Linked DNA regions of Homo sapiens: region 2 is linked to region 1. The links come from fine-mapping of genetic effects on gene expression. A gene starts in region 1. The other region holds a variant in brackets. All regions are shown on one strand. Distances are from middle to middle. Region 1 holds the start of MAPK9 (mitogen-activated protein kinase 9). Region 2 overlaps GFPT2 (glutamine-fructose-6-phosphate transaminase 2).

The links.
Region 2: its variant is fine-mapped to the expression of MAPK9 in whole blood (INTERVAL, PIP 0.91).

The regions. Positions count from the first base shown.
Region 1 is chr5:180,287,397-180,302,589 of GRCh38, reverse strand. It overlaps MAPK9 (mitogen-activated protein kinase 9), which reads left to right and starts at 10,507. Exons shown (of 12, transcript NM_002752.5): 1 at 10,507-10,742. It overlaps LOC124901151 (a long non-coding RNA gene), which reads right to left and starts at 10,358. Exons shown (of 2, transcript XR_007059085.1): 1 at 10,290-10,358; 2 at 7,337-7,619. It overlaps GFPT2 (glutamine-fructose-6-phosphate transaminase 2), which reads left to right. Exons shown (of 19, transcript NM_005110.4): 18 at 6-167; 19 at 982-1,892. The coding sequence ends at 1,026. RefSeq lists enhancers at 3,045-3,545, 9,387-10,029 and silencers at 9,952-10,291, 10,302-10,671, 10,802-10,991.
Region 2 is chr5:180,309,612-180,324,804 of GRCh38, reverse strand. It overlaps GFPT2 (glutamine-fructose-6-phosphate transaminase 2), which reads left to right. Exons shown (of 19, transcript NM_005110.4): 9 at 500-617; 10 at 5,849-6,012; 11 at 7,747-7,842; 12 at 7,944-8,041; 13 at 8,344-8,464; 14 at 10,841-10,998; 15 at 12,261-12,375. Among named protein-coding and RNA genes, the nearest start is that of MAPK9, 25 kb to the right of the region's middle. RefSeq lists enhancers at 991-1,676, 10,762-11,056. The variant T/C (reference allele first, on the strand shown) is at 7,317.

The sequences.
Region 1 (15,193 bases):
TCTAGGGTCGCCCCATTATACTGTGCTCCAAGGACGATACTGAAAGTTCCAAGTTTGCGTATAAGACAATTGAGCTGCCCCACACTGTGGACTGCCTCCAGGGCATCCTGAGCGTGATTCCGCTGCAGCTGCTGTCCTTCCACCTGGCTGTTCTCCGAGGATATGACGTGCGTCTAAAAACTGCACCTAACAGCAGAGAGGAGAGACATAACCCCAGAGTTCCTTTCTGTTCTTTAAATACTTGGAGTAAATAGTCATAGAGTAAATAATTTTATTTAAAGTAGCTTTCTTTTTTTTTTTTTTGAGATTGAGTCTCGCTCTGTCGCCCAGGCTGGAGGGCAGTGGCACAACCTCGGCTCACTGCAAGCTCCACCTCCTGGGTTCAAGCGATTCTCCTGCCTCAGCCTCCCGAGTAGCTGGGACTACAAGCACCCGCCACCATGCCTGGCTAATTTTTTGTATTTTTTGTAGAGACGGGGTTTCACCGTGTTAGCCAGGATGACCTTGATCTGACCTCGTGATCCACCTGCCTCAGCCTCCCAAAGTGCTGGGATTACAGGTGTGAGCCACCGCACCCGGCCCAGTAGAAGCGTACTTATGAACCATTCCTACCTTTCCTTCCCACTCCACCCTAAACAAATAAGTCCCATGGAATTCATATATATTCTTGCAAGAAAAGTTAATTTTTAACAGTACACACCAAGTTACCTGTGTTTAAAAGCATGAACCTTATTCTTTAAATCATGTTAACAGATCATGACACACATCAGGTGCACAGTAAATGTTTATTGAGGGACTAAACCTTATACGGTTAAATGAGGCTTCTGGACTAAGGAATCTGCCTCCAAGACGCAGGTCTCTAGGTTGGTGACCATGGTGAACATCTGTCTCTTGTTTTTAAGTACTCTGAAAATTGTCTGTGAGAGGTAGCATGTTGCTGAGATCTTTGGGGTCCTGAACAGTCACTTTCTTTCATTTTAGGTTGACTTCCCCAGAAATCTGGCCAAGTCTGTAACTGTGGAATGAGGCTGAGACCGTGACAAGACCATCACCACCTTTCATCTGATTCCAGACCTGTCCCAACAGCAGGGATGCTACATGGGAAGAGAAGTGGACATCCCACATGTTCTGCGTGCTCCTGTAGAGCTTGACAGCTTCCACGTGCCTTCTACCCAAGTGCTTTTGCTTACAGCAGATACTGTTTCTCTGTGTCCTGAAGTCGCCAGAGGAGAAGGGAATCATTGTTTACACATGGGGATCAGAGCAGACTTCTCCACTACTGTGCAATAGAGATACAGCTCTCTTCAGAGTAACTGTGAACCTTTTATAACCAACACTAGAGTTAGTTTTAAAAGACAAGATATTTATAATGACGACTGTATAGCTTTTAAGTTATTTTTCTAGTATGTGGCTTTCTGTAGCCGTGGTAACGGCCAAACTGTTCATCCTAGCTACCCATGCTCTGTGTCCAGGCTTGCTCCTGGCAGGTGGCATTCATCTCAGATGTGAGCACAAGGCATTGGCCCTCTGGACTCCTTTCTCCTTTTCTTTCCTCTCTAGGCTGCTCCTGAATCCTGTTCTCTGACATCCGTGGAGCCCCTCCTGCATCCACCTATGCCTCCTATAAGTCCAGTTGAAATCTCAGCCTCCTTCAACATTTTCTTCTCGTGTGTGGCCCACATCCCTCCACTTCTCCAACTTCTGTTTAATCTGATCACGGCTCTTTTTAAGCCCTGGCAGCATTTTGGTCCCTGCTCCTTGCCCATAGTAAAACAGCTTGAAATATCCCATGCAAGAGAGTAGTTTCAAGTGGGCAACTCTGCTCTCTATTTAAAAGCGTGCACAATCAAAAGTACTATGCAATTTTAGGACAATAAAGAACATACAGTTTTTTTGTGTGTGTTTGCATTTTGTTAACCTCATTCTTTTTGTGTACTTTGAATTTTGAGGACTGTGCAGGAGCTCGGCAGTGTTTGGAGGGGCAGCCCTGTTTGTTAGTAACATTGGCCTCGTCCACACCTGAGACCTATGGGTTTCTAGTAGGAAAAGGAGGGCTGTTGTCCAGGATACAACAAATCCAAGAGATTTGGGACTCAGCAGAGGGGCCACTGAACCTGGAAGGGGTTGGGCAGAACCTGTAGACAGCATAGAGGGGTGAAACTCTCAAATTTGTATTTTTTTCCCAATAAGGCTATTATAGTCCCTGGTTTCATTAATACAATCAGATGGAAAGATTGAAAGCCAGAGAGTTCTGAAGTTTTGTGAAGTCAGAACTTAGGCTTCCTACGTAAGTGCTGTCACACACAACCTGAATGATGTCTTCATGACAACGGGTGTGTGTAGCCCTAGTATCTCATAAACCCTGTCCAGGATTACCTATGGGCTACTCAGCAAATTTCCATCCTGTCCTATGCCCTCACCTGTATCATGGGCTGGAAACCTGGGAGCTACATTTCCAGTTATCCACCATCCTGTCCTATGCCCTCACCTGTATCACAGGGGCTGGAAACCTGGGAGCTACATTTCCAGTTATCCACCATCCTGTCCTATGCCCTCACCTGTATCACAGGGGCTGGAAACCTGGGAGCTACATTTCCAGTTATCCACCATTCTGTCCTATGCCCTCACCTGTATCACAGGGGCTGGAAAGCTGGGAGCTACATTTCTAGGTTATCCACCAGTGAGAGGCATTCATGGGAGACTTGGAAGATAGTTGAGTGGCAGAAATCATATTTTGTATTTATCTCTGGCAGAAGCAGATAGAAATGTTGCTTCAGCAAACGGGGTTCTGCTGTGGCCCTCAGGGGCTCCCCAAAACGCACCCACCTCAGCATGCCAGGCAGTGGTGACCATGAACAGAGGTCGCCTGTGGCTCCTCTAAAATCCCAACTCTGGAGAGCTGGCAGCAACCAGGTGCCACAGGGGCTTTTCCTGACTTCTGTCCTCCAGGCCCTGGGTCAGTCCCAGGGAAATGGCTAGAATAGTTTCTGTCCTACTAATCAATCCATGACCAATACAACTTCCAAGATTAGGAGACTACAAACTAGCCAGAACATTTTTCTCTGGACAAGACCTAGAAAGTGTATTTCATCCTTATGCCCAAGAGGCGACGGCCATTCTGACTTTTGTGCCAATTGTTCCCTTGCTTTTCTTTATAGTTTCACCTGTGTATCTATCCCCCAAATACACTGCCTAGTTCGAAAGTGGAGGGTGAGTGCATGCTGGCGGTGCAAGGAGAGGGCGGCACTGCCTCCACTAGACGGAGGTTCCAGGAGGTGAGCAGATCAGTCTCCAGGTCGTGGTCTGACCCCTGCTTCTCTGGGAACTGACAAGGCCCCTCCTGGGGAAGTCATGAGGAAGGTCTCGAGGAAGTCTTGGGCTCAGCACAGTCAGGCACCTGGTAGGGCCAAGGTGGGGACCACGCGCTGGACCTGCAGTGGAAATAGTCAGAGGGAGGGGGCTGACCTGTACGTCCTGCTTCTAAGCTCGCCACGGCCTGCCTCCAGCTCTCGGTGGGGGGAAAGCTGGAAACTTCTGTGAATGTTGTGCGTCCTCAGCAGAGGAGGGGAGCGCCCCTCGTCGGCACATGGCCAAGCCAAGTACCGCCAAGAACCTAGGCCAGGCTCTCCTGGGCATTTTGTCCCCGGGCTACAGATGGCCTGATGGAGGTGGGGTCTTGGTGAAGACAGTTCACCCCGTGGGTCACGCTGCTCAGTATGGCTCAGTCGCTCTCCACGTCTGGTGCAGAGCCATCACCTCAGGGTCACTTCTCGCCACCCTCCATGGGCCTCCCAGGCCATGTCTTCTGTGTTGGGTTCCTGTTTTTGTTTTTTTGTTTGTTTGCTTGTTTTTTGACAGAGTTTTGCTCTGTTGCTAGGCTGGAGTGCAGTGGCGTGATCTCAGCTGACTGCTACCTCTGCCTCCCGAGTTCAAGCAATTCTCCTGCCTCAGCCACCCAAGTAGCTGGGACTCTAGGCGTGCGCCACCACACCCAGCTAATTTTTGTATTTTTAGTAGAGACAAGGTTTCACCATGTTGGCCAGGATGGTCTCGATCTCTTGACCTCGTGATCCACCTGCCTCGGCCTCCCAAAGCGCTGGGATTACAGGCGTGAGCTGCCATACCGGCCTGGGCTCCTGTTTTCTGTATCTGTGTCTTCCTTCTTCTGAGTTTCCTTTTTTGTTCTGGTGAAGCCCATTCTTGAGAAAAGGTGCTTGAGAGGTGTCTTAAGTCAGTTCAGCCTGCTGTAACAGCCCTGGTGCCTTATAAAAATCCCACATTTCTTTCTCACAGTTCTCAACAGTGGGAAGTCCAAGATCAAGGCACCGGCAGATGTGGAGTCTTGGTGAGGGCCCATTTCCTGGTTTGTACAGAGCAGCCTTCTTGCTGTGTCCTCACATGGCAGAAGGGACAAGGGAGTTCTCTGGAGCCTCTTTGATAAGTGTACTAATCCCATTCATAAGGGCTCCACCCTCACACTCATCACCTCCCAAAGGCCTCACCTCCTAATAACATCACATGTGGCAGGGGTTAGGATTGCAACATATGAATTTGGGGAAACACAAATATTCAGGCCACAACAGAAGGCAAGTTTTTTGAGAATCTGCAGGTGTGGAAATGATTTTTTTATTTATACTTGATAGAGGGTTTAGCTAAACACACAATTCTAGGTCAGAAAAAGGTGTTCCTGCAGAATTTTAAAGGTAGTGCTTCATCGTCTTGTTCCCAGTGCTGCTATTGAGTCCAAAGTCTGATGTCTTTGTAGGTGACCTTTTGGTCTCTTTTTTGTTTCCTGTGTTCTGAAATACCACAAGTTGCCTAGAGCACATTTCATTTAGGGTTGATTGCATCTGGTAACTTTTGCCTTTCAGACTAGGAAATTTTCTTGAATTATTTTGTTGTGGATTTCTCTGTTTCTCTGTCTCTGGAGTGTCTATTATTCCCAGGGTGAAGCTGCTGGACTGGCCTCTAATTTCTTATCTTTTTTATCATTCATTTGTTGTCTTTTTGCCCTACTGAGAGATTTCAATTTTATCTCCCAACCTGCTACTAAGATTTTTCATTTCTGCCAACATGATTTAATTTTTCGAGGGTTTTTTTTTGCTCTGACTATATATATATATATATATATTTTTTTTTTTTTTTTTTTGAGATAGAGTCTCACTTCGTCACCAGGCTGGAATGCAGTGGCGTGATCTCGGCTCACTGCAAGCTCCACCTCCCGGGTTCACACCATTCTCCTGCCTCAGCCTCCTGAGTAGCTGGGACTATAGGTGCCCGCCACCACACCCGGCTAATTTTTTTTGGTATTTTTAGTAGAGATGGGGTTTCACCGTGTTAGCCAGGATGGCCTCGATCTCCTGACCTCGTGATCCGCCCACCTCGCCCTCCGAAAGTGCTGGGATTACAGGTGCGAGCCACTGTGCCCGGCCACAAACTTTTCTATTCTTCCCCATTTATTATTTCTATTAGAATGAACCATAGATATTTATTTTATATTTTGAGTCATGCCCAATACTATGTTAGTTTGTTGTTCCAATGGTTCCAGCAACAGCCACTGGGGGCTCTTTCAGTTGGCTCTTGTGTCTCTTTGACATAGCCCCATCTGTGTGTGTGTGTGTGTGTGTGTGTGTGGTAAGTACTTCCGTGTGTGTGTGTGGGGGGGTACTTCCGTGTGTGTACTTCCTTACGTGTGTGTTGTACTTCCTTGTGTGTGTGTGTGTGTGTGTGTGTGGTAAGTACTTCCGTGTGTGTGTGGGGGGGGGGGTAAGTACTTCCGTGTGTGTACTTTCTTACGTGTGTGTTGTACTTCCTTGTGTGTGTGTGTGTGTGTGTGTGTGTGTTGTAAGTACTTCCTTACCTGCACAACAATATTCTCCAGGCTCGTCTTGTCCATCCCCTGTCCCAGCCCTAGAATCAACCATTTCTCCAGGGATCCCTGGTTCCTTTTATGGCGAATGACATTAGAGAACAAGATCTGGGCTCTGGGTGTGTCAGCCACTGCTGAGATGTCATTGCTTCTAGGCCATCTCAGCTGACAGAGCAAGGCCATGTTGCATACACCTGTGCTGCATAATTTTTAAATGGCTGGTTCTTGTTTGAAGGATGCAATATTTTTTCATTCTCTCTGAAGCTAGCAGTAGTTTTATTTTTATTTTTTGAATTTTCCTTCTCCACAGAGTCTGTTTCTTTCAAGATGCAGTTTTTTGTCTTACTTTTCTTAGCCATATGACATGGAGCTGTCTGTTCAGATTCAAGGGGGGCTGACTGGAAGGTCTAAGGCATGGTAGGGCTGGTTGATGCAGGATTCACTGCTGGGAAATCTGGTGGGGGTGGGGGTGTCATAATGTTCATACCTCAGGTCTTCCCTTCAGGGCTGGTCAGACTTCTGGAGAACAGCTTGCTGGCTCCCTGCCTGAGGACAGTCCCAGCTGCTGGTGCTCTGGGGGATTCCCGGAGGAGGAGGGCTAAGGGCCACTGGGTTCAGCATTCAGTTATACAGCCCCCAAATAACCCTGTTTCCATACAGTGCCACACCCTCAGCTGCGCCCCAGCTCAGATGCCCTCATTCTAATCATCACCATGGAAGAAACTTCCAGACTTCTGCCTTTCCCAATTCTGCCCTTCCCTGCCATGTCCTCACATGAGCCTGTCTGCCCAGCATGGCTGACTAGTTCCAGAATGGAAGCCCTGTCTGGGGGACCATCAGAGTCCATTGTTGTGGGTTTTCAAACTCCATTTGGGCCTGCAGTGGCCTCCATGGCCCTAGAGTTTCCAGACCAGCTCTGCCCCTACCTCCCCTGGGTATGATGTTACAGGCACCTCCCAGTAAACGTCCCCATTGGTTTAAGTGCAGTTTAGTTTTCTACAACACACAGCTGGGACAGCCCCGACTTACACCCTCTAGCACATCTCTGGGTCCTTGTAGGGGAGAAGGGAAGATGTGGGTTAGTGCAATGGGGGGAGGGCAGGCAAAGTGTTGAGGGGACAGAGGCAGTCAGCATAAGGACCTACACCATCCCTGCTGCATGGGCCGCACCCAGCTCTTCCTGCTTCTGTCCTTCTCCATGCCACTTCCTACAGAACCAAGGCAGACAGAAGTGAATCCCTTGCCCAGAGGAGCACAGCTGACAAGAGTCGGATTGGAATCCAGGCCAGTCAAGGGTGGGGGATATCAGGATCACAGAAACCCGTTGGCACTGTGGCTGCATACACAGCTGGCCTCCGGACAGGTCCCCAATGCCCCAGGCACCCCTAGCTCCTCCACCCCGCTGTGCTCTTGTCTTAGTCTGTTTCTTATTCTGTTGCTTATAACAGAATACCTGAAACTGGGTAATTTACTTTAAAAAAGAATTTATTTGTTACAGCCCTGGGGGCTGAGAAGTCCAAGGTTGAGGGGCTGCACCTGGTGAGGGCCTTCTTGCTGCTGGGGACTCTGCAGAGTCCTGAGGGTGGCGCAGGTGTCACATGGCCAGGGGGCGGAGCATATTCACAGGCCAGCTCAGGTCTTCCTTCCTCTTCTAATGAAGTCACCAGTCCCACTCCGGTGATAACCCTTTAATCCATGAATCCATCGACAGGTTAATCCCAACCACGCTTAGAGGCCCCACCTCTCAGTACTGCCACATTGGAGATTAAGTTTGAACATGAGTTTCATTGAGGATAAACATCCAAAACAGCTCATCCCAAATCTAAATGTTTCTTAAATCAACTAATCAATTAAAAAAAGAAAACCTCTCTGGGCTGAACAAGGCGTATCAGTGAGCTAAAGCCAGCCTACATGCCTGGCAGTGCCAATCTACCTCAAGGTCCTCAGAACTCTCCAGTCCCCTCACCTTTCCCTAAGACCAGGTGACTTGTGGCTCCCTGAACACAGCAAGCAGGTCCTCACATCTGAGCATGTGGGCCTGAGCGCCCTTTCTGCCTAAGTCACAGGCCCAACACATCCTGCTCGGCAGCCTCAGCAACAACTTCCTCCTGCCCAGAAGGCCTTCCTCAATTGCTTCTCCCCACCATAGGCCGGATCAGGTGAGACGTGCTCACGTGTCACACCTGGTTCACGTATGTCGTGGCAGGATCTTTTCACTTGGAGGGTTCAACCAGGATTCTTGGTGCTGTTCCAAGGCCCCCCTCCCCACCCTGTCACCTCAGCTTTGTGTCCATAAATGTTCACTGTATTTCATAAACCAGAAAAAAAGCAGTGTCTCTGCAATAAAAAGAACTCTTACAGAAAACTTAGTGTGAGATATGTATAGCTGTGTACATATGTACACTGATTTTTGGTTACTCACTTGACATGATGTGAGTGCTATGAAGTTAGGCCTGGAGTGCTGGGAACTGGTGTCCCCTCTGTTTTTTTGTTTTTATTTTTTTGAGATGCAGTTTTTGCTCTGTTGCCCAGGCTGGAGTGCAGTGGAGCAATCTCGGCTCACTGCAACCTCTGCCTCGTGGATTCAAGTTATTCTCCTGCCTTGGTTTCCTGAATAGCTGGAATTACAAGCACCCATCACCACGCCCAGCTAATGTTTGTATTTCTAATAGAGATGACGTTTCACCATGTTGGCCAGGCTGGTCTCGAACTCCTGGCCTCAGGTGATCCACTCACCTCGGCGTCCCAAAGTACTGGGATTACAGGTGTGAGCCACCGCACCGCCTTCCTAATGAGAAGCACCCATCAGTGCTCCTTGGTGGAACCTCAGATCTGACAGCTAGGCTTTTACTCTTTTCCCATAATCCTCGATCCTGACAATTTCTGGTTTCCTGTTCTCTCTCATGCACTTGAGGCAGGTGGCAGGTGAGTCTGAGGTAGCGACAGGTGTGGGCCCTCCTCAATGCAGGCCACACTGTGACGTAGAATTTCAAGCAGCGATGAGCCATGCTCAAATTTAGAAAACTCCCTCTGGTGGCCAAGGGGGACACCATGCTGGATCCGTTCCTCTACCCCACCCCTCCTCTGAGGCTCTGGTGCCTCCAAGCGGCCTGGCCCAGACCTCAGTGCCCTTGGAACCTGGGTCACAGGCTAGCTGCCCTCCCCAAATTCTGCAACCACCCTTCACGCCACCCAGCCCCTTACCCTCCCCATCTGCAGAGTCCTGTTCCTTCTCCCCACTCTGGCCCTGGCCACTCTGTGGATCCTGGTATTGTGTTACTGCTGTTCTACACCACACTCACCATTTGTCAACCATTGTTCCCACTCTTCTAGTCCCCAAAGGCCGGCTCTCCACGGTTTTCCCCATGTGCCCAGCCTCAGTGCCTCTCTTCCTGCTTCACTTTTCAACGTAGATCTGGCAACATCCCAAGCCCCGGCCTCTCCCATCCTGTACGACCCCCAGGCCGCTGGTACCTGATCCAGCCTCAAAAGCAGCTCAGAGTCAACGGGTCCCAGTCCCTAGGGGGCTCTGAGCAAGAGACTCCTCGCCCCGCCCCCCACTCCTCTCAGAGGCTTGACTGAGCACCTCCCTTTTTTTTTTTTTTTTTTTTTTTTTTTTTTTTTTTTTTTTTGAGAGAGTCTCACTCTGTCACCCAGGCTGGAGTGCAATGGCGCAATCCCGGCTCACTGCAACCTCCGCCTCCCAGGTTTAAGTGATTCTCCTGCCTCAGCCTCCCGAGTAGCTGGGATTACAGGCGCCCGCCACCACGCCCAGCTCATTGCTTCGTATTTTTAATAGAGACGGGGTTTCACCAGGTTAGCCAGGCTGGTCTCGAACTCCTCACCTCAGGTAGTCCACCCGCCACGACCTCCCAAAGTTCTAGGATTACAGGCGTGAGCCACCGCGCCCTGCCGCACCTCCTAATTTTTAGATGTTGTCAACTAAGTGATCCCGCCACCAAGCGCAGTCTCCTCCTGCGTCACCGACCCACCGGGTCACCTGTCTACACACCGCCATCTCTTCGCACCCCCTCCCCCTCTTCGACCCGGCTTCTGGCCTCACCCACACCCCCATAGACCCGTTCCTCCGGCGCCGCAGCGAGCAACCGAGTGCGAGGCCCGCCCCGCCTACCGGGCCCTAGCACGCCGGGCTCCCGGACGCCAGGCCGGCCTCCCCCCGCGATCGCCCCGGGCTCTCCCCGAAACGGGCGGGCTCCCGTGCCGCTCCAGTCGCCTCACCGCCACAAGCCTGCACCTGCAGCCCGAGGCCCGGCTCCCCGCGGACCCCGCGGTGTGAGCCCCGCGCGCCTCCAGCCCGGTTCCCGGTCCTCCGGGCCACCCTCTCCACCGAGCTGCGCCCCCCTCGCAGGGAGAGCGGGCTCAGCCGGTGGGCCGCGCAATGCCTGCGTCTCCAGCTCACCGCGTGCACTGCGCGCACCCGAGCGCCATGGCCACTCGGCCCGCGCCACTGAAAGGCCCGGGGGCGAAGAACCCGCGGAACCCCGGCCCAGGACCTCGGGCGCCCGACCCGGCCCCCGACCCCGCCCGCGCCACCCTCCATCGGCCCGCCCCCCAGGCGCCATTGGCCGCGCCTGCTCCGCTCTCCGCGCGCTGATTGGTCGGCGCGAGGGTCTGTCAGACCGGGCGCCGCGGCGGCGGCAGCGGCGGAGAAGGGAGCGGGACCGGAAGGGTCGCAGCGCCCCGGCGCCCCTCACACCCACTGCGGCGGCGGCGGCGGCGGCGGCGGCGGGGCGGAGCGGAGCGGGGCGGGCCGGCGGCGGAGCCGGGGCCGCGGAGCCAGGAGTGACTAGCACGCAGCGCCGCCAGTCCGCCCGCCCGCCCTCTCCCCGTGGCGCGGCGGCGGGGAGGCGAGGTGAGCCCGGCGGGCGGGCTAGGCCTGGCGGCGGCTGCTCGGGCCGGGCCCGCGGGGAGGGGCGGTGAGGGAACCGCGCGGCCGGGGGCTTCGGGGCGGGCCGGGGGCTGCGGGGCCCTGGCAGCCGCAGCCGTCGCCCCTGTGCTGGGGGATGCCGCAGGCGCCCCCTTCCGCCCGGCTGTCAGCAGCCCCGGGCTGCGGGCCTGCTCACCGGCCTGGCCCGGCCGACCTGCCCGTGGGGTCTGCGGGCGCCATCCCTCCCGGAGGTGGGGCAGACAGCTGCACTCCTGCGCCGGGTGCCCAGGGGCCCGGGGTCGCGTCCCCGCGACCTTGGCCAAGGCACTGACCCTCGCTCTGCCGCGGTTTTGCCTTCGGGAAGGTGGGGAAATGTCTCTTCTGGACAGGGTTGTTGTCAGGCTGTGTGAATGTATGCAGACGCCTGGGCAGGACCCCGGTGTGCATCTGTGGAAGACTGGGCAGGGTGCTGGCCCGTGCTGGTGTGAGTGGTGTAGGAACCCCCTCCCCACCCGCCCAGCCTCCCGCCTCCCCGCGCACTCCTCTCTTGCCTTGTCATTGCACACTCGGTGTCCAGCAGTGCCAGAGGGGACCCAGCCCGAATCCCTTACCACCGCGCCCCTCCCCCAGAAGACTGCTGCCCCGTCCCACTCATCTCGCCCGCCTTGAACATGCCAGCCCGCATTTGCCCCAGGACCTTTGCATTTGCTGTTTCCCCGTCTTTGGAGTTGTCTCCGTGATCTTGGCACAAGTAGCTCTTTCTGCTCCTTCCTCTGGTCAGATGTCTCGTTTTGGGTGAGGCCCTCCTCGACCACCCTCTTTCTTCCCTTAGTCATGCTATTTCATTATTTAAAAAATTTCCTTCCTAGCTCTCATCTGGTTTGAAACTATTCTATTTATTTGCCTGCTTATTTTCTGTCTCCCCGACTAGGATGTAACTTTGTGAAAACAGGTAGCTGTCTGATTTGTCCACTGCTTTATCCCCAGTGCTTAGAAAGCACACAGGAAGTATTCAGTAGTATCAGCTCAATGAATGAATGAATGATCAAAGAAATGGCCCAGCCTGCCTGTTGTCTCTGCTTTATCTGTTCATTTAGTGACTTCTGATTAGCGTGTGAAACTTGTAAGCAGATGGAAGCTTGTTCTATTTTGTGAAACATTTTGGTGTCCTTGACCCCTTTAATTGCTAACTGTTGGAACAAGCTGTGATATAAAATCTCACATTTTTATAATAGTTTAGCTGTAGCTTTCTTCCACACATACAAGAGACATTTACTGAATTCTGCATTATCTAGGTCATGCTTTCTGCTAGACCCTACGGACACAAGGCAGATAGCAACGGGGTCCCTTTCCCGAGAGAGCCCAGGAGCCCAGTAGAGAAGGCAGGCATGCAGACACTTAGTTCCAGGACTGTACAACCCTTGCTATAGGGGAGGGGCTATGCCATGGAAATGTGGAGGAGGTGACAGGTGGTGCTGGGGGGCCTTGAGGGTGATAAGAAATTTGCTAGGCAGGGAGAGGCACAGAGGTGTGAAGGAGCAGGGCCAAGGAAGGACCGTAGGCCACTGTGGAGTTGAGAATCAGTCTGGAGGGCCAGGTGTAAGGACACAGAGTCGTGGGGACCCTAAAGAACAGGAACCTTACCCAGCAGTTTTCTAGAAGAAGGTGGAATTTGGCTGGGTGCCATGGCTCACGCCAGTAATTTCAAGACACTTTGGGAGGCTGATGTGGGAGGATCACTTCAGGCCAGGAGTTCAAGACCAGCCTGGGCAACGTAGCGAGATCTGTCTCTACAAAAAATTTTAAGAAATTAGCTAGGTGTGGTGGCATCCACCTGTAGTCCTAGCTGCTTGGGAGGCTGAGGTGGAAGGATCCCATGAGCCCAGGATTTGGAGCCTGCAGTGAGCTATGATCACACCACTGTGCTCCAGCCTGGGTGACAGAGCAAGACCCTGTCTCTAAAAAGGAAGGCAGCACTCCACATTTGTTCTGATTTTTAAATGTTGGCAATAGCTAATTAAATTTTTTTTTAATGCTGTGAGCCAAGCCAAATACAGATTCATTCAGCTTGGTTGCAGGATCGTCATCCTCCAGGACTGGCTGTGTGGGAGGGAGGAGCTGTGAGGAGAGCAGGAAAGGTAGCCTAAGGCCAGGGGAGCCAGGCCCTGTTTGCCCAGGTGCCAGCCCAGATACTCATTTGATTGTAACTGGAGCCCTGTGGAAACGGAAGCTCAGGAGTCTAAGTAGTCTGTTTCTTAGCAAGCAGCTGGTGAGTGGAGTTCGAACCCAGATCACTTCCCAGATAAGGATTCTTTCCTGGGTCCCTCAGCTCTGAGTATTCTCTTTTGGCTTTTAACTTGTTCTGGAAGAATGACCACCAATCTATTTAATGTTTTCCTCCATTTAACTTTTTTTTTTCTTCAAAAGGATCCTGCAGAGTTAAAAACAATACTATTTTTGCATAGACTTCTCTTTTGACAGCTTTGATTTTCCTGGCAATTTAATTTTCAGGGTGCCAGGACTTTAATTTGTTCACAGATTAAAATCTGTTTATTTGGTCCCGTAAATAAACAACAGAGGGGATACTTGAATGTGTCTAAGATAAAATATTCTTAATTTTCTGGATAAAGAAAAGGACCAGACAAACCAGTTAATAGCGAGTAAACCAGTTGTTTTCATGAGGCATAAGATAAAACAGAGACCAGATTTTTTTTCTTCTTGAGACTATTGATTTGCCAATAGGGCAACTATTTTTGGTCTACATACATACAGTAGTTACACCTCACACTTGGTTAGGAAGGTGCCATTTTTACATAATTTTCCTTCAGAATAATTAATTCCTGATACTTTGTACTTGATTGTATGAACCAGTTTCAACATCATTCTTTTTATTTTAACTTTTATTATGGGAACTTTCAAACATATACAAAATAAACAGAATAGTGTCCTGCTTTAACAGTTATTAACTCCTGACCAATCTTGTTTCATCTCTAATGGTATCCACTTGCACCCTTACCACCCATAATTATTTTCAAGCAAATCCTAAATATCATGTCATTTCATTCATTATTTTTTGGGATACTAATTACACAGTGGGTGCCCAGTAAATGTTTGGTAAAGACAAAGCTAAATGGGAGAATAAATGTGGTAGGGTAGCTCGGAGCAGTGGGTAAGATCAGGACTTTGAGTCAGACTCCCAGTGGGTCTGCTGCTTATCTGGGTGATGTGCAGAAGCGATTGCACTCATCTGTAAAACATACGGGCACAACCTCAGGGTGCTCAGGAGGTGTACAGTAGTTATACTTCACACTTCGGTAGGTCTCTAAAGGTACTGACTCTTTTAAAGTTGAAAAAGTAATAATTGCTTAATATCATCAAATAACTAGTCAATATTCAAATTTCCAGCTGCCCCATGAATTTTAGGTTTCCTTAATAGTTTGAAAGTAGAGCAAGAGAAGGCCATACGTTGTTGATTGGATGATACGTCTTTTAAGTTTCTCTTAATCCATAGATCCCCCTCCTATTTCTTTGTTTTCTTGGTAGTTTATTTGTTGAAGCAATCGAGTTGTTCCTTAGCATTTCCATAGTTGGTATTTGATTGATTGCATCTCTGCAGTGTAATTGAATGTGTTTCTCTGTAATCTCTGTAAGTTAGTAATTGGATCTAGACGAGGCTTCGTCAGATTTAGGGTGCATTCCTGCATCAAGATGCCTTCCTAAGTGGGCTGTGCACTTCTTATCTAGAGGTACCCTGAGGCTCTCTGCTCGTCCGTGTTGCAGATGAGTGCAATCGCTTGCTGCACATCACCCAGATAAATAGCAGACCCACTGGGAGTCTGAAGTCAAAGTCCCGATCTTAACCACTGCTCCCAGCTGCCCTACCGCATTTTTTCTCCCATTTAGCTTTGTCTTTAACAAACATTTTTTGGGCACCCACTGTGTAATCAGTAGAGGATTGAGAAATAAATCAGACACATTTTCTGCCCTTACAGAGTAGAAGTGTAAGTAGACTCGGAATGCAATCTAAAGCGAATACTGGGAGGGTGGCAAAAATGGGGGCATGCCCAGCATGGTTTGAAGGGAAAGGCTGGAGGAGGAAACATGTAAGAGAAGCAAGTGCTTGAACTAGATTTTTGAAGGAGGGTGAATGTTGACCAGCAGGTCAAAAAGGGGAGGGAAGTCATTTCAAGCAGATGGAACAGCTTAGGCAGAGGCCTGAAGGTGTGCAGTAGCTGGGTGTGTCCGCTGATCCCAGGTGGTTTGATGTTGCCTAAGATTGGGCCAGAGGACTGCCATCTCCTGTGCTGTGCTAGGGAACTGAATCTTATTCTCCAGGCAGTCAGTCACTGTTGAAGGAGTTCAAATGGGAGAATGGTGTGATCACTGCACACTTTCAACAAATCTCTCTTTTTTCTTTCCATATTTTGAAATAATTA
Region 2 (15,193 bases), 22 kb before region 1:
AAGAAGTACCGGAACAGCACAGCTGCTGGTGTCGCAGGACTCGGCAGCTGCTCTGGCACAGTCAGCTCCCCTCTGAGGCAAGGAAACCCCACTCTGAGCCAGACCCAACAGGCGCACAGCTCCAGGTCTAAAAGGTTTTTGTGCAACTGAGACTTGGCTCCATTTTTTTTAAGCTTTTTATCATGGACATGAATTTATCATGATTTTGTATATTGTCAAACATACACAAAAGTGCCATTGTATAACGGCAACTGGGCTTTGATGTGAGTGCTTCTTTGGTTTGTTTTTGTTTGCATTCCTCTCACACTGTAGCCATTTAAATGCTTTTGCAGTGGTACTGTGCTATTGGGGGATCTTTTACACGATTTGGCTGACACAGCCAAAGCTAAAAATTGCAAATTTCTCCCACACATATTCAGAGGGGAAATTGGTTCCTTGCTGCATATTATGCAAACAAAACATCCCAGTGGGATTTGCAACCCATTCCTCCATTTGCTAGGCACTCTGGAGAATGTGAAGAATATCTGTAAGACACGGATGAAGAGGCTGGACAGCTCCGCCTGCCTGCATGCTGTGGGCGACAAGGCCGTGGAATTCTTCTTTGCTTCTGATGCAAGGTAACTGAGCCTTCTTCTCTTCGCTTCCTGGGATTACATAATCAAAGAATGCCTGTCTAAACACTGCCGGTTCTTATTCATCCTTCCATGTGAGCTATCGTGGCTCAGCAAGTCGCAGGGCCAAAGAAGAGTTCAGCCATCCCTGGGCCTGGGCCTGGAGTCCTTGTCCTAGGAGCACCTGCATGACTGTGGTAGGCAGCCCTGGTGGCCAAAGGCCAGATGCACTGGTGGGCACAGTGCTTCGAGCCTGCACAAAATGAATGGGTTAGTTGCCAATGTTGTAAAATTTGGAGATTTCACAGAGAAATCTGAAATCTCTAGCTTCTCTGGAAGAACTAGCAGATCGGGGCATGCTGTGCAGCCCTCTCTCAGGTGGCAGGTGTCTGGATCTGCTCAAAGGCTGCCCCCTTTAGATGAGACAACTGTGTCTAGACCTCAGTCCCTCCCATGCCCCTCCCTGCCTTTGCCTGGGGTGAGACCATTTGTGAAAGACAGAGCCAAGACACAGGGAGTTTTTCAATTGATTCTAAAGTCCATGCTCTCATCAATCCACTGAATAATGATTTTGAAATTTGAGAAATTCTGCTTTATACTCATTTCAGAAAAAAAAAAAGTTATACACACACTCACACACACACAGAGAGAGAGAGAGGGAGAGAGAGAACCAGAGCACTTTCCTGCCATTTGAAGTAGAAAACTGCTGTAATCACCTCTGGTACCTTCTTCAAAGACCCAAAGGCTTGGGCCTTTGTTATGTTTCCATTCTTGATGGGTTTTCTCTTTCCCGACCAGCCTCTAATAGGGCCGTGCTGTGAGGCAGGGAGGACACCAGGCCGGGTCTCCTGGGAAACGGGAGCGACAGGGAGGCGAGGCCTGATTAAACGCACAGCCAGCATCATACTTAACGCTGAGGTCAAGGCAGCGCTTCCCAAATGGTGCCCCTTAGAACACGCCGAGAATACCAACGAGACGCTGGTATTATTTCAGTGATTCTAAAACACGGAGAATTGTAGATTTTGGCATAGTACCATTAGAATTTGTTGAAGCTTTTATTTCTTAGAAGTTTGTCAAATAATTGTGATCTTAACGATCAATAGTAACTTATATTCAATGAAATATGATAGATGTTTCTTTTTTTATTTTTATTTATTTATTTATTTTGTCTCACTCTGTCGCCCAGACTGGAGTGCAGTGGTGTGATCTCGGCTCACTGCAAGCTCCGCCTCCTGGGTTCAAGTGATTCTCCTGCCTCAGCCTCTGAGTAGCTGGGACTACAGGTGCCCGCCACCACGCCCGGCTAATTTTTTGTATTTTTAGTAGAGATGGGGTTTCACTGTGTTAGCCAGGATTGTCTCCATCTCCTGACCTCATGATCCGCCCTCCTCAGCCTCCCAAAGTGCTGGGATTACAGGTGTGAGCCACCGCGCCCATCCAGATGTTTCTTTTTTTTTAAAAAAAAGGCATGAATGCCTGAAAGGAGAGGAAATAATTATTTGTAGGCAATACTATTACACATTTTTAAATCCAGCCAAAAGGCTGTTAGAACTGATAGTACTAGCAGCTGGGAGTAAAGGTGTGGAAATCCTATATCCTGGCCTTAGCCACTAAGCTGTATCTGGTTCAAGTGGGACCTTGTCCACCTTATTCTCAGGTGTCACCTCACGTGACCAGGCACGATGCAGTCAGCAAACGTTAGGTGAACCAAAAAAGCAATACTATTCACCACAGCTGGAAAAAAAAATGCTTTAGAGTAAATTTTAACAAAAATACTCTAGAACATATTTGGAGAAGTCTACAGAAATTTACCATGAGGAAGTAAGAGATTTGAATATAGGAAGAGATTCCACATTCCTCAGTAGGAAGGCTTACTATTCTTTTCTTTTTTTTTTTTTGAGACAGGGTCTCATTAAGTTGCCCAGGCTGTCCTCGAACTAACTCCTGGACTCAAGGGATCCTCCTGCCTCAGCTTCCAGAGTAGCTATTTTCAAAAATTAATGCACTCAACATTTAAAACTAATTTAATGATTACAAGTTATTTTTAAAAAATATTGACTCTACCCAAATTATTCTGTGAATTCTGTGCTGTAATTAAGACTGTCCAGGCCGGGCGTGGTGGCTCACGCCTGTCATCCCAGCACTTTGGGAGGCCGAGGCGGACAGATCATGAGATCAGGAGATCGAGACCATCCTGGCCAACACGGTGAAACCCGGTTTCTACTAAAAATACAAAAAAAAAATCAGCCGGGCGTGGTGGCGGAGGCCTGTAGTCCCAGCTACTCGGGAGGCTGAGGCAGGAGAATGGCGTGAACCCGGGAGGCGGAGCTTGCAGTGAGCCGAGATCGCGCCACTGCACTCCAGCCTGGGCAACAGAGCGAGACTCCGTCTCAAAACAAAACAAAACAAAACAAAACAAAACAAAACAAAACCCTCCATATTATTTTATTTGTTTATGCCTTTGGAACTTCAGGAAGTGATTCTGTCGCGTGTAGTGTAGAGATAAGAAAGACAACACATGCTGAGAAAGGAATGGCAGGTGGCCCTCCCAGATGTGAGCACACTGTCCAGCTTTTGGGCAACGGTGGCCAGTGTGTGCGGGGCACGGTATGAGAGCCTCACCAGGATCCCATGCGATAATCATGACAGACCTCTGGGGAAGGCACAGCTCTTTTCTGTTTACAGAGGCGGAACCTGAGACAGGAACTCCAGGGGGTTATGTATGTTGCCCACGGGCACAGGTCTGGCAAGTGACAGAGGCCCCGAGTCCACCTCAAGCCTAACTGGTGGGCCATTGGTTTTAATGACTAGATTACATGACTACCCATTTTGGAAATAAAATAATTATATTTAAACAAACATGTACATGCACACATAAATATAAACACACATGCGTCATGCATTGTTGGTTGGTTAATGCTACAATGGAAGCAGTGTTGATCTCTCGGAGACAGGATAGGGCCGTTTTTACTTCTTGTCACTCCATGTTTCTACTTTTTATACAAAAAAATATATTTCTATACAAAATTTTGTATAAAGCTCTGTATACTTTTATACAAAGCATACAAAGTTATTTGTACACTTTTATACAAAGCATACGAAGTTATTTGTACACTTTTATACAAAGCATACGAAGTTATTTGTACACTTTTATACAAAGCATACGAAGTTATTTGTACACTTTTATACAAAGCATACGAAGTTATTTGTATACTTTTATACAAAGTTTTGTTTAAAATATTTTTTCCAGTACAGTGGCTTGCCATCTTTCTTTCTCTTTCTTCCCTAGGATCTGGCTGGATATACGTCTTTTAGAGCCTTAGACCTTGATGGTTTCTCTCTTTACCTTTGCACCAGGAGTTTAAGTGTTCATTTTCAGGCAGTCACGTGTGGGTGTGGCTCTTGATAGAATGAGAGTGTTTTTTTTGAGACGGAGTCTTGCTCTGTCACCCAGGTTAGAGTGCAGTGGCACAATCTCAGCCCACTGCAGCCTCCGCCTCCTGGGTTCAAGTGATTCTCCTGCCTCCCAAGTAGCTGGGATTACAGGTGCCCGCCACCACACCTGGCTAATTTTTGTATTTTTAGTAGAGACGGGGTTTTGCCATGTTGGCCAGGCTGGTCTCAAACTCCTGACCTCAGGTGATCTTCCCGCCTTGGTCTCCCAAAGTGCTAGGATTACAGGTGTGAGCCAGGGCTCCCGGCCGAGAGTGTTTTCTCCAGTAGTCCTTCAAGCCCAACCTGATGGTTTATACCACAACTATATACCATTAATCACCTTTCTTTTTCATTTAGCAACTTTTCAAACTTAAAATGATTTTAAAAGATACTTTGTATTATGATCTCAAGGGAAAAAAATCATTATTCTTTTCCATACAGAGAAAGTTATAAAAATAAACACAATGGGCTGGGCACGGTGGCTCACACCTGTAATCCCAGCACTTTGGGAGGCCGAGGCGGGCGGATCACGAGGTCAGGAGATCGAGACCATCCTGGCTAACACGGTGAAACCCCGTCTCTCCTAAAAATACAAAAAAGTAGCCGGGCATGGTGTCGGGCACCTGTAGTCCCAGCTACTCGGGAGGCTGAGGCAGGAGAATGGCGTGAACCCGGGAGGCAGAGCTTGCAGTGAGTGGAGATCGCGCCACTGCACTCCAGCCTGGGCGACAGAGCGAGACTCTGTCTCAAAATAAATAAATAAATAAACACAATGACCCTATGTTTCTTTGGTAAGCATAGCTTGTAGACTACTTTTAGGGCTCCTTTGTGTATGTGTGTGTGTGTGTAAGAAACTAGGTCTTTTGTCCTGATGAGTTTCCCATTGTCTGGGTTTTGCTGAGTGCAACCCCTGGTGTCATTTACCATCTTCCTCTGTCCCCTGTGTTTCCTGTACGCTGGAGTTTACAAGTGTTAAAAGCTCGATCTTATTCAGGTTTGATTTTTTTTGGCAAGACTACATAGTTGGTGGTGTGTCCTTCCATCAGGAGGCGGGTGATGTCTCACCATCTCTCTTTTTGTGCTAAGAGCCATCAGGGGTTTGAGTGTTGCCAGCCTTATCCATCCATGATAAAGCTTCGTCCAGCTTTTTACCTTCTGGTTTCAACAGCCATGAATGGTCCTTGATTAGAGCTATTAATAATTAGGAGTTCATAAATTGATTCTTCTATTATTTCTTCATTACTAGCTGTATCACTTCTTAGAGAAACTTGCCTTCATAAAGTATGTGGTTGTTCTGAAAGACAGATTGTTTAGAAAGGCGAGATAAATGCTTTATTCTTTCCCTTCACGATTCAGAATAATGTGTTGGTTCTCGAGTATCTTCCAGAGGTGACATTGTTTGGATCCTGATTTGAAGAAACCGGTTATAAAAAGACAGCCGTGAGATTATTGGAGATATGTAAACATGCTGAATATTTGATGATATAAAGGAACAACTATTCATTTTAGATATGATTATGGTATTATAGTAGGTTAAAATAGTTTTAGAGCTCTATGGTAAAGTGTTTACAGAAGAAATGATATAATGTCTGGGACTGGCTTCAAAATAATTCCGTGGGGACAGGAGGGAAGAGTGGAGAAGAAAAGGAAGATTCACCTGCAAATCAATGTTTTTAGTGTGGTCTCTCTGTCCCTCCTAAAATGCCAACGATGTGGCCTCCACGCTTGGGAACCAGCAAGGGGCTGCTGCCTCGTAACTGCTCAGGGCAGGGCACTGATGATGCCTGTTTCCCTTGCCCCAGCGCTATCATAGAGCACACCAACCGGGTCATCTTCCTGGAGGACGATGACATCGCCGCAGTGGCTGATGGGAAACTCTCCATTCACCGGGTCAAGCGCTCGGCCAGTGATGACCCATCTCGAGCCATCCAGACCTTGCAGATGGAACTGCAGCAAATCATGAAAGGCAGGTGTCCTCCAGAGTCCACGTGCGGCAGCCTCGGGAGCCAGCGCGCCTGGTGGAGCTCCTGACACTCTGCCTGGTCCTAGTAGAGGCCACAGCCCTCCTGCCCTCTGTGGCCACCAGGGCGGGGCTGCAGGTAGCCTGTGGCTTGCACAGGTGAGGGGATGTGGGGAGGCTGGCCTGGCACCTCCAAGCGGGGGCTCCTGTGTGCAGCCAGCCGCCAGGTCTTTCCTACTGGAACTGAGCCCAGTGTGTCAGCTGCCTTCCTTCACCGACTCCGCGGGACACATGCCCACCCTCAGGCATCATTTCTCCTCTGGGTGGAAGTCTGCAGGTCTGCAGTAAATGGGGGGTGGGGGTACACTTTCTCCCTACAAGGAGAGCCTCTCTGTCTGCACCCATTTCTGTCCCCTTACAACCTCTACCCCACAGGGCAGCCTGAGCAAACGTCTAAGAACATGAATCAGCCCCTGTGATCATCCCGCTGCTCAAGGCCCTCCAATGGTTTCCTACTGTTCTTAGAATAAAATCCAAACTCCCTGCCACAGCCCACAAACCCCACACCCCAGTGGGGCCAAAGCCTGGCCCCACCACACTCAACCCTCTGTCCCACTGTGCCCCGCCACAGCCCCTGCATTCGCTGTTCTTCTCATAGGACTGGTTCCTTTTCATTGCCTCCAGCTCCCTTGAAATGTCACCCCCTCAGAGACTCCTTCTCTGCTCCTGTGTCTGCCATGGTCCCTCCCCAGCCCCTCCCCTATGGTGGCCACCCCTCATTCCCCTCACTTGCTTCATTTGCTCGTCGCACAAGTGCCAGGTCATGGGAGACAGGCCGGGAGCATGGGCGATGTTGGTGTCATGAGTGTGCGTATCCTAGAGAACACGGCCTGCCCTGCCTGTGGGTACCTCCAGAGCATCAGGTGCAGGGGCTTGAACACCCTGCAGCCCCATTGTCCCATCAGCACCATCCAATCCCACTCAAATCAGAGCCCTGGAAATGCCTGTGTGGCTGGAAAGGTTTTTTTTTTTTTTTTTTTGAGACGGAGTCTTGCTCTGTCGCCCAGGCTGGAGTGCTGTGGCGCGATCTCGGCTCACTGCAAGCTCCGCCTCCCGGGTTCACGCCATTCTCCTGCCTCAGCCTCCCAAGTAGCTGGGACTACAGGCGCCCGCCACTACGCCCGGCTAATTTTTTGTATTTTTAGTAGAGACGGGGTTTCACTGTTTTAGCCGGGATGGTCTCGATCTCCTGACTTCGTGATCCGCCCGCCTCGGCCTCCCAAAGTGCTGGGATTACAGGCGTGAGCCAC[T/C]GCGCCCGGCCTGGAAAGGTTTTTATTACGGAAACCAGGAGGGTATTTATTAGAAGGAAAATTGCCTGTTTCTTTGGGCCTGCTTAGCTGTACTTTCCTAGCTGGATGGCTTTTTGGGAGTGAAGCACTTTACTTTCTTTTGGCCTTGCTAAGGGAGCATGGCCCAGAGGGATCAGCCAGGCCATTTGTTACTTGCATGCCTTGGGCAAATCCCTCCCTTTCTCAAGCTGCAGGGTCCAATATGTAAATTGGAGATAGTCCTGGTTCCTGACCTGCTTCCCTCTGATGGTAGTGAGTGTCAGGCAGGGTAATCCCTGGGGATGCCTTTGGGAATCTGCAGTAAGCTTTACAGGAGTTACTATCGCTGCTGCATAATGAAAAGCAGTGAAATATAATGAAATTAAAACTGACCAGACGTTTATTTGACCAGGTAACTTCAGTGCGTTTATGCAGAAGGAGATCTTCGAACAGCCAGAATCAGTTTTCAATACTATGAGAGGTCGGGTGAATTTTGAAACCAACACAGGTAATTCCTACACTCGGTGGGGAGCCTCCGCCCGAGCCTAGTCTCAGGGAATGCGGTGACTGTGTAGACTCAGCATTAACGCCTTGTCGTGTGCCCTGCAGTGCTCCTGGGTGGCTTGAAGGACCACTTGAAGGAGATTCGACGATGCCGACGGCTCATCGTGATTGGCTGTGGAACCAGCTACCACGCTGCCGTGGCTGTAAGTGTGACACATGTGCGTGGGGAAGTCGACGGCAGTCTAGGACCAGACACTGGCCTTCAGTTTTATCACTCATGTGGCCTTCTGAATTTGGCTAAGCCCTTGTACCCATTCCCATGAGCTAGCGTGAGAAATGACACGGAGCCCTTTTATCTTCGAGGTGGCCTGTGGGTGACCGAAGTCCCCTCGCCACCTGGACAGTGAGGTTCCGTGTCACAAACTGTCCCTAGAAGCCCAGCTGCCCCATGTCCCTGTCGTGCCTGTGACTGACTTTAGTCTCCATGCTTGCTTGTTGGCTTCAGACGCGGCAAGTTTTGGAGGAACTGACTGAGCTTCCTGTGATGGTTGAACTTGCTAGTGATTTTCTGGACAGGAACACACCTGTGTTCAGGGATGACGTTTGCTTTTTCATCAGCCAGTCAGGTAAGGGACACAGGCATTGTGGCCAGCCTTGCATCAGGTCAGCTCTGGGCTCTCTCCTCTTCTCCTTCATTCAGTTAAGTCCTCTGCATGGCTACCCTGTGCTGCGAACCCTCTCTTGCAGCGGTCATTTAACCCGTAGAGCCATGGATTACTGTCGCCATTGTACGGGGAGGGCAAGAGATGTCTAAGGCCATGCAGTCAGGGGGTGACAGCTGGGATTGGGCTGGAAATCCACGCACGTTAGTCTTTCCCCTGCCCCGTGGCTTCTCCCTCTTCTTGCCTATCCAAGACTTCAAGGACCACTTACCGAAGTGCTCATAAATGTTTGCTGATTTATGTTAATAGAAAAAGCATCTCCTTTAACATTTTGTTAGGTTGAGAGTCACGTGGAGGACCCAGTATGGGCTCTGTGCCCAAGTGTCCAAGCCGAGCTGCCTGTGGCATGCAGTGCCCATGCTGCCCAGCAGGGGGAGGTGTGGGGGAGACAGTGCTCCCTTTTAGGGCCAAGGAAGGTCTCCCAAGCTACATGCACCCCATCTGGTGCCATCCCAACACTGGGCTTGACATTTGCTCCAGCTGTCTCAGGGAGGTGATCCAGGGCCATAGGCTTGGAGTCTCCTTGAGCTCGTGGAAGATTTTTGAAATGTTTTAATTACGGATAATTCCAAGCCTTTATAAAAGTAGAATTTTCATATAATGAATATCCTAGCCTTATCCAGCCCATCTTGTGCCGGTCGGACACACTCATATTAACCCCTCGTCTCCATGGGGTTACTTTGAAGCCAATCCCGGGCATCATGATATTCATCCATATAAATACTTCAGGCTGCATGATTAAAATGACAAAAGAAAAACATATAACCGGCCGGGCGCGGTGGCTCACGCCTGTAATCCCAGCACTTTGGGAGGCTGAGGTGGGCGGATCACGAGGTCAGGAGATTGAGGCCATCCTGGCTCACACAGTGAAACCCCGTCTCTACTAAAAATATAAAACAATTAGCCGGGCGTGGTGGCGGGCGCCTGTAGTCCCGGCTACTCAGGAGGCTGAGGCAGGAGAATGGCGTGAACCCGGGAGGCGGAGCTTGCAGTGAGCTGAGATCGCGCCACTGCACTCCAGCCTGGGCGACAGAGCGAGACTCCGTCTCAAAAAAAAAAAAAAGAAAAAGAAAAACGTATGACCACGGTGTTACTACCACAACTAAAATACTGATTGTAATGCCCTATCATCTATTAGGACTTTTAGTACTCCTGCCATTTTCCATTTTAAATACCATTTCCATTTTGTTGACAAGTGAAGAAAAACCAGTACAGATACACCGACCATCCGGCCCACCACCTTATGACGCAGGAGCTGCTGCCGTGTTCACCTTTGGGTTTCTGATCCCACCAGAGCCTCAGACTATTTTATAAATTGGTGGGAGACATTAACAAAAGAACAGAGGTGGAGCTAATATGAAAATAATGCAGTGGCAGCTTCCGAATCTCTGTGTGTATAGAAGTCAGCCCTTTAATGAGATTGAAAAAACACTATCGAACCCTAGGGCGCGGGTGACAGAAGTTAGAACCCCCTTTCCCGCACCCTCACCGCAGTACCCCGTGACACTCCAGTGCCATAACCCAGGGCTCTGAAGAAAGAAAAGCAGAGGAGAATTGGGCCACCTAGCACCGGGCGGCACCTGCCTGCCCTGCAAAGCTGGGACAGACACAGCCAAGAGCAGTGGCCCTGCAAACAGAACAGCCTCCCGACTCATGAGGATTTCAACAGTTTTGATTTTATAGTCTGGCTTATGCTGAATTTAATTTGAGTGCTTTAGGACTCACAAACATAGGGAGCTTGTGCTGGTTTATGCATGAAGCTGTTTAGCTTTATTCTAAAAACAATTTGAGTCCACACTGAGAGGCTTGCAAGAAGTGTCCTTTCAAACAGGATCTAGCTGAGAAACACCACTTGGGGACATTCCTGCTTGTCAGATGTTAAATCTGTTCCATCTCAGCACGTTCTGAATAAGGCAGCTTATTCAGTTGCAGAGAGGGCGCTGGGAGCCAAGCCCACCTGTCACCAGCTGTATGGCTTTGATCAGAGCACCGGTTTCCTCCTGTCTCTGAGCCCTCATCCTCAAGAGGAAAATGGGGACGATGGTCCTCACGGGGTTGTCACGAGATTTAAATGAAAAGATGCTTGCCACAAATAGTAACACACCTTGAATGTAAGAATCAACCGAAAAGGCTGTTGAGCGAGCGTTTTCCTTTCTGAACACCCGCTGGCTGTGTCTCGGGCGCCGATTTCCCTGTAAGAGCCGGCGGTGAAGGAGGAAGGGGTTTGGGGTGGGGCCGAGGCTGGCGGAGCGCGGCACTGAGAGGGCCCCTGGGCGGCAGGCGAGACCGCGGACACCCTCCTGGCGCTGCGCTACTGTAAGGACCGCGGCGCTCTCACCGTGGGCGTCACCAACACCGTGGGCAGCTCCATCTCTCGCGAGACCGACTGCGGCGTCCACATCAACGCAGGGCCGGAGATCGGCGTGGCCAGCACCAAGGTAGGAGGAGCCACGGGCGCCCGTCCCAGGGAGAGCCTGGCGGAGGCAGGTGCACCAGAGGCCGCCCTCCTCCGGCCTGCTCTGCCCGCGCCACCGCCTTTCTTTCCCCTTCCCGCCTCACCCCTTCTCTCCGCTCCTTTCCTTTCCCCTCCCCTCTTGGATTCCCGTATCTTCATTTTTTTTATTTTTATTTTTATTTTATTTATTTATTTTTTTTGAGACGGAGTCTCACTCTGTCGCCCAGGCTGGAGTGCAGGGGCGCGATCTCGGCTCACTGCAAGCTCCGCCTCCCGGGTTCACGCCATTCTCCTGCCTCAGCCTCCCGAGTAGCTGGGACTACAGGCACCCGCCCCACACCCGGCTCATTTTTTGTATTTTTAGTAGAGACGGGGTTTCACCGTGTTAGCCGGGATGGTCTCGATCTCCTGACCTCGTGATCCGCCCGCCTCGGCCTCCCAAAGTGCTGGGATTACAGGCGTGAGCCCCCGTGCCCGGCCCCCATATCTTCATTTAGTCTCATTTTATTCCCATGCCACGTTCCTGTGTTTCGTCCATGTTGTCCTGTGGCTCTTTGAGCACCTTGGAGATGCTTATTTTAAAGTCCTTTAGGGCTGGCACGGGGCTCCCCCCTGGAATCCCAGCACTGTGGGAGGCTGAGGCGGGAGCATCCCTTGAACCCAGGAGTTCCAGACCGCCCCGGGCAACCCCGTCCCTTCAAAAATAAAACTTAGGCCAGGTGCGGAGACTCAGGCCTGTAATCCCAGCACTTTGGGAGGCCGAGGCAGGGGGATCACCTGAGGTCAGGGGTTTGAGACCATCCTGGCTAACACGGTGAAACCCCGTCTCTACTAAAAACACAAAAATTAGTCGGGTGTGGTGGCGGGTGCCTGTAATCCCAGCTACTCGGGAGGCTGAGGCAGGAGAATCGCTTGAACCTGGTAGGTGGAGGTTGCAGTGAGCCGAGATCGAGCCACTGCACTCCAGCCTGGGTGACACAGCAAGACTTTGTCTCAAAAACAAAATAGAAATAAATAAATAGATAAATAAAACCTAAAAATTAACTGGGCAGGGTGGTGGCACCTGTAGTCCCAGTTACTCGGGAGGCTGAGGTGGGAGAATCACTTGAGGAGGTTGAGGCTGCAGTGAGCCGTGATCTCGCCACTGCACTCAGGCGTGAGCAACAGAGTAGACCCTGTCTCAAAAATAAAAGTTGATTTAAAAAGTGAAAATAAGGTCCCTGCCACCTCCTTCTTTGTGCACAGGCTTATACCAGTCAGTTCATCTCTCTGGTGATGTTTGGTTTGATGATGTCTGAAGACCGAATTTCACTACAAAACAGGAGGCAAGAGATCATCCGTGGCTTGAGATCTTTACCTGGTATGTTCTAGAATTCAGCTTTCCATGTTTTCAGATCTAGTGGACTGTTGCTGGCCATTCTCTGTTGACTCTCACCTGTACAGGATGTTGTTCATTTCTTCTTCCTCCTAAAACTTCCTAGCTTCCCCAACTCCCTCCTGGAGGCCTTGCTGCCTCTGACCTCATCCTGCTCGGCCCCCACCTCCCCCTGCGCTGCCGCGCTGCCTCCCTGCCTCCCTGCCTCCCTGCCTCCCCGCCTCCCTGGTCCTCAGCCTCCCTGCCTCCCTGGTCCTCAGCCTCCCTGCCTCCCTGGTCCTCAGCCTCCCCGCCTCCCTGCCTCCCTGGTCCTCAGCCTCCCTGCCTCCCTGGTCCTCAGCCTCCCCGCCTCCCTGCCTCCCTGCCCCTCAGCCTCCCCACCTCCCCGCCTCCCTGCCTCCCTGCCCCTCAGCCTCCCCACCTCCCTGCCTCCCTGGTCCTCAGCCTCCCTGCCTCCCTGGTCCTCAGCAGTGCTCAGTGCTTTCTCACCGCAGGGCCTTCGCACTGGCTCTTTACTCTGCTGAACCATCTTCTTCCTGCTCTGCATACAGCCGACAGCTTCTCATCTCCCAAACCTCAGCTCAAATGTCACCTCCTGAGACCCTCCCTGGCCATGCTCACAGAGGCCCCGACGCCAGCACTCTGTGAAACATTAGCCTGTTTATTTTTTTCATAACACACCTCATGACCTGAAATTCCCTGTTCACCTGTTGACTGGCCTGTCTCCCCCAACTAACATGTCGGCTCCGTGAACACACAGCTCTGTCTGCCAGAGCTGCCACTGGACAGCTGGTGTCCAGCACAGGGCAGGCATACAGTAGGTGCTCAGTAAGTACTCGAGAAAGAGCAAATGGCCCCAGGTCCTTCCTATGCCAGGCGCTCCTTGGCAGCCCCACCACACTTTCCCCGTTTGCTGGGCAGCAGCAGTCGCAGCTGTCGTAGCTGGTGAGATACAATATCTGTTGCACTAAATCATGACCTCCTTGGGGACCGTGGCCTCCCCTTTCTTCATTCATCCACCACATATATTAAGAACCAGTGCCGTGCCCTGTCCCATGTGCTATCCCTGGCCTGCCAAGATAAGCAGCAGCTCACCTCCTTCAGTCACTCACATGCCAGAGTAGGAGAGAGACTTCTGTGCAGGCCTGAGAGGCGGAGATGAATCGAGCCTCGCCCCAGGCTGGCATGGAACGCTCACTGCGGACAGGACATCATGGGGCTTCTGGGGAGTGCCCTCCCAGAGACAGAGTGGACGCTGGAGCTTCCCTGGGAGCCAGGGCCAAACCCCAGAGCAGGCAGTTGGGGAAGGGCCATCATAGAGAATGGTCAATTCCAGGCCCTCGGGGCCTGACACTGGCCGAGACAGCTTGCTGAAAGTTTATTTCTGAGAAAAGCATTCTTCCTTTAAGCCAGGTCATAACCATGCAAAACAGGACCCAATTCTGACGTCTAAGTCAGTGGTTCTCCAGATGTGGTCCACAGGTCCTGGGTGTCTGCAAAGCCCTTTGAACAAAATTGTTCACATAGTAATACATTCTTTATACTAAAAATTTTTTTTTTTTTTTTTTTTTTTTTTTTTTTTGCCTGTGTCCACATTTGCAAAGGCAGTGGTGGCTGTGCCCGGCACCCAGCACACTAGAAGGCCTACTGGTCATTGTGTCCTTCACCAGCACACACCCAGTTTCCCTTAAGAATGGCCTTGATGGCCGGGCGCGGTGGCTCACGCCTGTAATCCCAGCACTTTGGGAGGCTGAAGTGGGCGGATCACCTGCGGTCAGGAGTTCGAGACCATCCTGGTCAACATGGTGAAACCCCATCTCTACTAAAAACACAAAAAGCAGCTGGATGTGGTGGCAGGTGCCTGTAATCCCAGCTACTCGGGAGGCTGAGGCAGGAAAATCACTTGAACCCAGGAGGCAGAGGTTGCAGTGAGCCAAGATTCTGCCACTGCACTCCAGCCTGGGCAACAGAGTGAGACTCCATCTCAAAAAACAAAAAAGAATGGCCTTGATGGTGAGGCGCAGTGGCTCACGCCTGTAATCTCAGTACTTTGGGAGGCCGAGGTGGGCAGATCGCCTGAGGTCAGGAGTTCGAGACCAGCCTGGCCAACATGGTGAAACCCCATCTCTACTAAAAATACAAAAATTAGCTGGGCGTGCTAGTGGGTGCCTGTAATCCCAGCTACTTGGGAGGCTGAGGCAGGAGAATTGCTTGAACCCAGGAGGCGGAGATTGCAGTGAGCCGAGATTGTGCCATTGTACTCCAGCCTGGGCGACAAGAGCGAGACTTCATCTCAAAAAGAAAAGGCTGGGCACGGTGGCTCATGCCTGTCATCCTAGCACTTTGGGAGGTCGAGGCAGGCAGATCATGAGGTCAGGAGATCGAGACCATCCTGGCTAACATGGTGAAACCCCGTCTCTACTAAAAATACAAAAAATTAGCCGGGCGTGGTGGTGGGCACCTGTAGTCCCAGCTACTCGGGGGGCTGAGGCAGAAGAATGGCGTGAACCTGGGAGGCAGAGTTTGCAGTGAGCCGAGATCGCACCACTGCACTCCAGCCTGGGTGACAGAGTGATACTCCATCTCAAAAAAAAAAAAGGAATGGCCTTGATGAGGTGGTAAAAATTATTAGTCTGTAAATTGCAACTCTTTGTAATATCCTTTATGATGAAATGGGGAGTACACGTAGCGCCTTTCTACTGGGGCCAGGCGTGGTGGCTCATGCCTGTAATCCCAGCACTTTGGGAGGCCAAGGCGAGCGGATCACCTGAGGTCAGGAGTTCGAGACCAGCCTGACCAACGC